Homo sapiens: one gene and its partner. The protein of the gene in region 1 purifies or fractionates together with the protein of each later gene. This does not show direct contact. Each region holds a gene or a part of one and is shown on either strand. Other genes may lie near its edges. The genes, in order: FADS2 and PANK3.

Region 1 (4,611 bases):
GGCTCAGAACATTGCCTGGGAATGTTGCAGGGAATCCAAACTGTCTTCTGATCAGTCCCTCCCCAGACTGTGCCTGGTCCATAAATTGTCACTCCCCATGCTCTGGGGGACAAACCATCACCCCAAGGGGCAAAGCCACTTGCTCAACAGCCTAGGCAAGGGTCTCTGGATTTCAGTAGCCTGTTCCTGCTTCTCTCTTTAGGTCCCCTTTCCACATGCCCCACCCACCCCACGCTGCTCAAGGCCTTTTTCCAACCTGGTCCTGGACAGTTTAAAAAAACAAAACAAAACAAAGAGAACCCAGCTGCTCACTCCATCATCACCATCATTCAAATCTGTATCCCCAGTTCGTGTATTTCATGCCCCAAAAGTCTTATTTTAGAAGACAGGAAGCTCTGGGGACAGGGATTGCTTTTACGTGTTGCTACACCAAATAAAGCTAGCATAGATTTAAATTTTTTCTTCAAATTCCTCTTTGCATACTTTCCATTCTAGCTGTTTCATAATACTTGTTCTTATTCCCGTTTGCCTGATAACACCCCATTGCATTCATCTAGTGGTTACAGTTGCTGGGTGCTTTGCCACAAATCAGTCTCATTGAAACAGGTACAGGTGTACCTTATAGATGAGGAGATGGGGCTCAGTCAAGTGACAACACTTAGTGGATGAGCCCAGTAATGACATCTTTCTTCAATTCTAGATCTGTTTGCAGCCCCGGTTGGCTCCCACCCTAGCTTATGAAAGTAACAAAGCAACCAACATCCAAGATACCAGATTTATAGTCCATGAAAGTTATACAGAAAGCGCTGGAGCAGGACCAGAAATGACGAGACTATTACATTTTTATGAGACAGAGAAAAGGTCAGGGAAGAGTAGGTCATTCTAGTCCTCTGTTAGGAGAGATGTGAGCACTGATTTTTGGAGGGAACTCAGTGTTAAGGTCAGGTAAGCACTGAGAACATCCAGAACAAGGAAGAAATAAATCAATCTGATATGGTAATTAAACCAGAAAGGTCAAGGCAATTGCCAGACTAAGCGTTCACATAAGAAAATATGTTTAACAATGTGGAATAATCAGACCAAATTCATCGTATTTGACTTTTCCTTCTGGAAACTTTTTGGTGAGGGCCTGGACAGGACAGGAACCTTCTACAATTTACCTATGAAATCAGAAACAGACCAGCCCAAGTCCAGCAACATATAGTGGAAAGATCCCAGCCAGGATCCAGAAGGTCCTTTACTTAGGAGTTACATTAACCCAACCTCCTCACTGGGCCGCGTAAAGGTCCAGGTGAGATAGCACTGAAGGTATGTGAAACATACCCACCTAAGTTCTAAATAGCATCACAAACCCACTGGGCTTAAGCAATGTCCACAAGCAAGTAAAACAGGATGGGACTGAAAGCTGTAGGGAATTTCAGTATCGCTGACCTTCCCAATCTTAGATAAGCCCTGGCCCTGCTGGCCCACACCACCTGTCCATTGTCCAGCTTGGGTTATGGTGGCCTGGTCTGGCCTTCCCCTAGGCCTGTCTCCATGAGATGCAAGAGGTGGGGAAGTTAAGGGTCGGGCCTACACAGCTTAGAGAGCAAAAGCCCACCAACAGTTGGGCATCCTAGACCTCCAGGTGGAATGATCTACGTCAAGTTCATCCCTCCTTTCTGCCTCTCTCCTATTCACTTTCCCCAATTTCTGTATCCCATCAGACCTTTTTTCTCTGCATCCAATTCACTACCACCACCAAAAGCCGCCCTTTCTTCCCTCCTTGCCTCTGTTCTTTTCCTTCTGGCCCATTCGAATCCATGGGATACCAGCTGCATCCTTAAATAAATGCCAGGATTTCAGACTGGGGTCCCCGGTGCGGGTAGCTGGTGCGGGGTAATCACTGAGCCACGCATTTGGTGGGGGTAAGGTGGGCAGCAATGGCTCCAGAGAGGCCCACAACCTTTAGGAGTGCAAGATGAGGGAAGGGTGTTCTTGGCAGGATTTAAAAAGAGAGAGCCATTGAGTTGAACGCCCGAGAGTAACCTCGAGTGCAGACGGACCTGTTGCCAAGCCAGTCTAGTGCTGCTAAATCCACCGGCTCAAGGCCTCACTCGACCTGGGCTTTGCAAACCCCAGGCCGTTCTCCTTCCACCAATCCCGGACGCCGGTCCCCAAGAAGGCCGGCTCGAGCTTGGGGTGAGTCTAGATAATCCCTGGAGCGTGGGAACCCGAGCTGCTGGGCGGTTTTTCCCAGGTGGCCATTGAGGAACTTCTTAGACAAGAGTCCCAGCAGGAGCGATCTCCGGCCGGGGACGAGCTTTCCTTCTCGCCACCCAGTCTGGATGGAGAGTGCGGGACAAGCGCGGAGTCCCACACCTGGCTGCCTGCGCTCCCGCTCCTTTCAGCGGCGCGCAGGGGCGGCCATCTTCCCCGCTGGGGGCGCCAAAGCCGTCTGGCCCGAGCGCCCCTCTTGGGGAGTCCCTGCCTCCAGACAAACCCCGAGGAAGGGGAGGACGCGTGGGTCCCGGCGCGCGCGGTAGATGCTTGCCCTGTTCTCCACCGCTGGGACTTTCACCGCAGCGCCGCCTCCCCGGGTCCCAGATCCGGTCTCCACCCCAGTCGGCCCAGAGGAGGAGGAGGATTGGGGAGGGGGTACGAGTGCAATAGATGCACTTTCCTTCCCTACAGGACGTCCCAAGCTCCATTCAGCGCCGGAGGTCTGTTTGGCCCACGGGGAGCCAGGGATCCTGACTCCGCCTGCAGCAGAGAAGGGTGGCTGGGGCGCCCCCAGACCCTTACCGTTGCATCTTCTCCAGCGTAGTGCCCGATGACCCGCTGGCCCCCCGGGTGCTGGATGGACCATTTGGTGATGTTGTAAACCTTGCGGTCAATGACCAGCCACCTGTCGGTGCGCAGGTTATGCTTCTGAATCTCCTCCCAGCTGAAGGTGGGCACCGACACCTCGCGCTCGGCGGCCCCCTCGCCCTGGTTCCCTCCCTTCCCCATGCTGCCTGCCGACTGTGACGCCCCGTGCACTGCGGCCTCCCCGCGCCGGCTGCTCGCTGCACAGACGGCTGCCTCCCAGCCGGTGTGTGCAGCCCGGGCCCTCTTCGCTTTCGGCTTTTGTCTTCTCCTACTCCTCCCACCGCGCCCCCTCCCCCAGCCTTCTCGCCTGCGCTCGGGAGTGTCCCTGCCTTCCTGGCGGAGGATCCCTGGCTTCCCAGTGCCCCCAAGCGGTCCCCTTCCTCCGCCCCTCCCTCAGCCCTCCCGCTATGGACTTTTGCCTCCAGTAAAAACTCCCCGGGAGCTCAGGGCCTCGACACCTCCTCTGCCCGCCCCTCCGGCTCCCCCCGCCTCGGGTTCCACATCCTCCCGCGTTCCCCGCCGCCCGAGTTTCCACAGCGATCAGCAGAGCGCCTGCACCAATCCGGTCGCGTCGCCCCGCCTGCCATTGGCCCAGGAGGATCTTTCGAAGGCCAGCGGGCTGGAGCGGCGGGTCCCCGGCTCCCCCGCCCTCCCGCGTGGAGTCGAGCCCTGCTGCGAGGCAGGCTACGTGTCCGACCTCCTCCCTCCCCCACTCTCCGGCCCCGGGCGCCGGAGGAGATCCTAGAGGAGATCCCGGTGGGGGCAACGAATGGGCTCCGCGCGCTCCGGGGCGCGTGCGCGCACGCCCGGCGCTCTGGGGGTTTGCACCTGATGCCGACACAAAGCCGGCGCGGCCACCAGGGTGCCAGCAAGCGGCCGGGCGGGTGGACCGGCGGGCTGCGGGGCACTCAACTCCAGGGCCGGCTTGGCTAGGTGACGCCCTTCCTTGGCGCGCGGCAGTCGAGACTCCAGTATCCCACATTGTCCGCGCCATCCACATTCTGGCGCCTTTCTGCAACCTCCCTAGAGACACAAGCCGGCCTTGGATTAGAGGGCTTTGAACCCTCTAGTCAGACAATCTTAGAAAAGAATTGCGGAACCTCTGCTCTGCTTTCTTGGTCTGGGCGCCATGGCTGCGGTGAGGGGGAAGGGAGGGGAAGGCAGAGGAAGGGGGCGATGAGGAACTGGCGCGGTCCTTGCCCTGGTCTCAGTAAGCTCAGTCTCTTTGGGAATCGTGGAAGCAGACACATCATTGGGCAGTGATGTTGTGCAGACTCCAGCAAATAAAGACTGCCGTATCGAAGGGATAGGAGGAGGGTTAGGTCTTTTAGGCGTGGGGCAAGAGACAGGCCCCTCAGACCCCAGCTGGATGGGGCGGCTTAGTGCCGGGCGTCCTGGGGGAAATGGGCCTGACTGCATCCGGAGGGCTAACGGGACACGTGGGAAGTAAGGATGAACAGAGAGGGTGGGGTGCACGAGGCTTGGGAATCACTAGAGGAGTTATAGGGCCCTCAGATTTCAATGGGATTTACAGGTGCCTGTGTGCTAGCACACCCTAATCATTAGATTCTCATCACAGGCTGAGAGGTAAACAGGACGCATATTATTACATCTCACTTGAAAATGGAGAGCCTGAGATTGAGAGAGATGGTCAAACGGGCCCTGCCCAATCTAAATTTCACAGCAATGCAGGGGTGGTGGGGGGATCACTCTGCCCAACTGGTGGGGTTGTACTTGGGGGGGCAGATGGGCTCCCTTTCC
Region 2 (3,811 bases), on another chromosome or scaffold:
CATTTAAAAATAATTGGAAACAGATGATTCTTTTTTTTGAGACAGAGTCTCACTCTGTCGCCCAGGCTGGAGTGCAGTGGCACAATCTCAGCTCACTGCAGCCTCCTCCTCCTGGGTTCAAGCAATTCTCCTGCCTCAGCCTCCCAAGTAGCTGGGACTACAGGTGCGCACCACCATGCCTGGCTAATTTTTGTATTTTTAGTAGGCAGGGTTTTGCCACACTGGCCAGGCTGGTCTCGAACTCCTGACCTCAGGTGACCTGCCCACCCTGGCCTCTCAAAGTGCTGGGATTAGAGGCGTGAGCCACTGCGCCTGGCCAAGATTCATTTTAATTGTGTATTTTTCTTTAACCCAATATTTCCAATGTTAACATTTCAACATGTAATCAATACAAAAAATTAGGAGATATTTAACCTTTTATTGTCCTTTAGAGCACATCTCAATTTGGACTAACCATATTTCAAATGCTCAACAGCTACATATGGGTAGTGGCTACTGCACTGGACATCGAAGTTCTAGAACTCTCTCTTACAAATGAACACTATCACTGTCGTTGAAAACTTTCTTGAGATAGTTTATTTTATACAAACAAACTGTATTTCTTATTATTCCTGAAATATCTCATATTGGCATCCTGCCATTTCATTGTAGTGCCTATCATTTTTCCATTGATACTGATAAAGTTGCCTAAGACACAACTTCCTACATAGAGGAAATAAGAGGAACAAACCCCTTTTGGACAGAATCTATTAAAACTCATTCCACTATCCCTATGTACATAAATAACATTGCCTCTGCTGAGTGGAATTTGCATTCGTTACTTCAAAATTCAGACTCATCTACCTTTCCAAGTTAGACAGTTGGGGAAAGAACTTCCTAAATCTTAAGGTTGAAGGCAGAGGGCTCAACCCCACTCCAGATTCAGGCAAGGGGAATAGGAAAGAAAGTGCGAGATAAGAGCATGGTGGCCTCTTGGGGTCCCTTGATGGGGGCTGTTGGGAAGTGGAAGGCATTCTTTTAAGGGGATAAGAAGCAAATGGAAGACTTGCTCCAACTCTAGAGTTTTCAGAGAGTTAGAGGAGGTGGAGAGATTTACTCCTGCCATGGATCATATGCATTTCTACCATCAACTCCTGGTTTTGCAGTATTTTTATAAATGGAGTTTGGACCTTGGTGACACTCAGCCTCTCTTCCCCTTTTCCTATGTTGCTCAATCTTCCTTTCCCTCCTAGGTTCTTACACATTTCAAACCCTTGCCAATAACAGTATTTTAGTTATCAGGTCTCACCATTCCCTCTGGTTGTTGAGCCTTTGGATAAAAATCCACATGGCTATGGAGTGGGTTTTGTTGGAAAAAGTGACCGTCCTCTAACTGCACCTCTATTTCTGGCTCCTCAAACAGCAAAGGGTAATAATAAGGCATGGTAGAGGTTTTCCCATTTTTCAGTGACTAGACTGTGAATATTTACAGATGAATTTTCTATTATTAATGTTATTGTGGTTGTTTTAAAATAAAAGTTCTGAATGTATATATGACCAAAACAAACAAACAAAAAGAGCACAGTGAACTCAAATCATATTCCATTACAATAGTCCCAGGACTTCATTAGACAGACTCCCAGTAATTAAGCCTCCAATCTTAAAATGTTAAACATTTCAACATGTATTGACTAATTCCTGTAAAATACAGAAAGTGCAACATCACCAAACGTGCATTTCCCAGGATTCATTTTAGAATTCTCATGAAAATTTAATAATAGTATTTCAGTTAATTATGGCATTTGAGAAAAAGATACTAATGGGGAAAGATCACATACATGCTTTGGGTGATACGTTAAAAAAACCTACAATAATTAGTAGTATTGCCTTAACATTTCTAAAATCACATAAAAATGATCATCTTTGATTGCCATTTCAGTAATTTTGAATACAGGGTATGTTATTTTCTGCTCACTAGTAATCAAAACACATAAAACAGACTTGTAACAAATATTCAGAGTCGATTATTTTCATAAGCTAAACAGTTCCGATACTTTAAGATTTGTGTTTGAGCATACAGTACTGCAATGTTGGCTACATAAAATAAAAAAATCTTTTTAAGAGGAAGCTCAATAATCAGAGGCTGTATTGCATTTAAGGATTTAACACTGGCTATATACAAAAGGGAAAGCATTTCAATGAGAAATACTTCACGTTACCAAGTTCTCTCCTTTAATATGGCAACATTCAGCAGCTTATGCTACTCTTTTATCCTTTGGTTCCCAGTGACAAACAATGCAGTAATAATGCCTCTGGTTTTAGTTCCTCTTGGATGACATTTATTAGCAGAGAGAGAGACCTGATGCTTTAGCTGAAATTTGGCAGCCCAAGAAGTGCACCAACTGCTCCAAAGTAACCCTGTGTAATTTAAAAATAACTGTTATGTAGTACAGCTTTTAAGTTAGCATATAATATTAACCACTTGAGAACACACAACTATGCACAATCTATTTGTTTAATAATATTTGGAAACCTACCAATTTCTGCGTTGTTAGCTATTATAAAAAATTTTCTGAATCTGTATTCTTGATGTCTACACACCTTTGAAATATGTATTTTTATTTATTATTATTATTTTTAGAGACATGGTCTCACTATTTTGCCCAGGCTGGCCTTGAATTCCTGGGCTCACATGGTCCTCCCATCTCAGCCTCTTGAATAGCTGGGACTATAGGCTCACACTGAAATACGTATTCTAAAAGTGTGGCCTTTAGACACTAAAGCTTCCAGGACTGTAACAGCAATTCTGCACCCTCTCCCCTTTACTTAATAAAACAAACTAACTTCCTGTGGCTGTGCCTGACACTCTCACTGCATGCCATGTGGAATTGCACAAGGGCACACCATTCTGATTTGTATTGTGTGAGCAGTGACAATGAGACATGGAAGCTTTTTTTTTTTTTTTTTTTTAGACAGTCTCGCTATCACCCAGGCTGGAGTGGCTGGAGTGCAGTGGCGCCATCTCGACTCACTGCAGGCTCCGCCCCCTGGGGTTCACACCATTCTCCTGCCTCAGCCTCCCGAGTCGCTGGGATTACAGGCGCCCGCCACCTCGCCCGGCTAATTTTTTTTTGTATTTTTAGTAGAGACGGGGTTTCACCGTTGTTAGCCAGGATGGTCTTGATCTCCTGACCTCGTGATCCGTCCGCCTTGGCCTCCCAAAGTGCTGGGATTACAGGCATGAGCCACCGCACCCGGCCAAGACATGGAAGCTTTTAAGAGCAGAATAATTTGAATCTCTGTTACTAATTTGTAATGATACAGCCATTTGACTTTGATCACAAAATGATTCAAGTTAAGTTAATCCAAAACATTATGTGGACTGATAATTGCTCAGATCAGAACTTAACTGCATGTAGTAAATGAATACAAAAAAATCTGGGGGTGCCTAACAGGTTATTGTAATTCTCTTCCCCACAACTGAAACTGAAGCGAAGGAACCAATATTCTACTACTTAAGGCTGGGCATGGTGGCTCACACCTATAAAGGATTGCTTGAGGCCAGGAGTTCCAGACTAGCCTGGGCAACAAAGAGTGATCCTGTCTCCACAAAAAATATTAATAAAAATAAATTTTCTGGGCACAGTGGTGCATACCTGTGGTCCCAGCTACTTGGGAGGCTGAGGTGGGAGGATTGATGAGCCCAGGAGGAAGAGGCTGCAGTAAGCCATCATTGTGCCACTAAACTCAAGCCTGAGTGACAGAGCAAGACCCTGTCTCTTAAAAAACATGCTATTAAAATTCACAAAAAACATTTTCCTACCATACCTCA

What was found.
Region 2: the proteins of FADS2 (region 1) and PANK3 purify together in Homo sapiens (affinity purification with mass spectrometry; one large-scale study listed by BioGRID and IntAct). This does not show direct contact.

The regions. Positions count from the first base shown.
Region 1 is NC_000011.10:61,826,771-61,831,381, reverse strand, and holds the start of FADS2 (acyl-CoA 6-desaturase), read right to left. Parts: upstream 3,083-4,611; 5' UTR 2,992-3,082; coding exon 2,785-2,991; intron 1-2,784. UniProt on the Homo sapiens protein: Involved in the biosynthesis of highly unsaturated fatty acids (HUFA) from the essential polyunsaturated fatty acids (PUFA) linoleic acid (LA) (18:2n-6) and alpha-linolenic acid (ALA) (18:3n-3) precursors, acting as a fatty acyl-coenzyme A (CoA) desaturase that introduces a cis double bond at carbon 6 of the fatty acyl chain.
Region 2 is NC_000005.10:168,555,225-168,559,035, forward strand, and holds part of PANK3 (pantothenate kinase 3), read right to left. Parts: coding exon 3,808-3,811; intron 2,398-3,807; coding exon 2,347-2,397; 3' UTR 1-2,346. UniProt on the Homo sapiens protein: Catalyzes the phosphorylation of pantothenate to generate 4'-phosphopantothenate in the first and rate-determining step of coenzyme A (CoA) synthesis.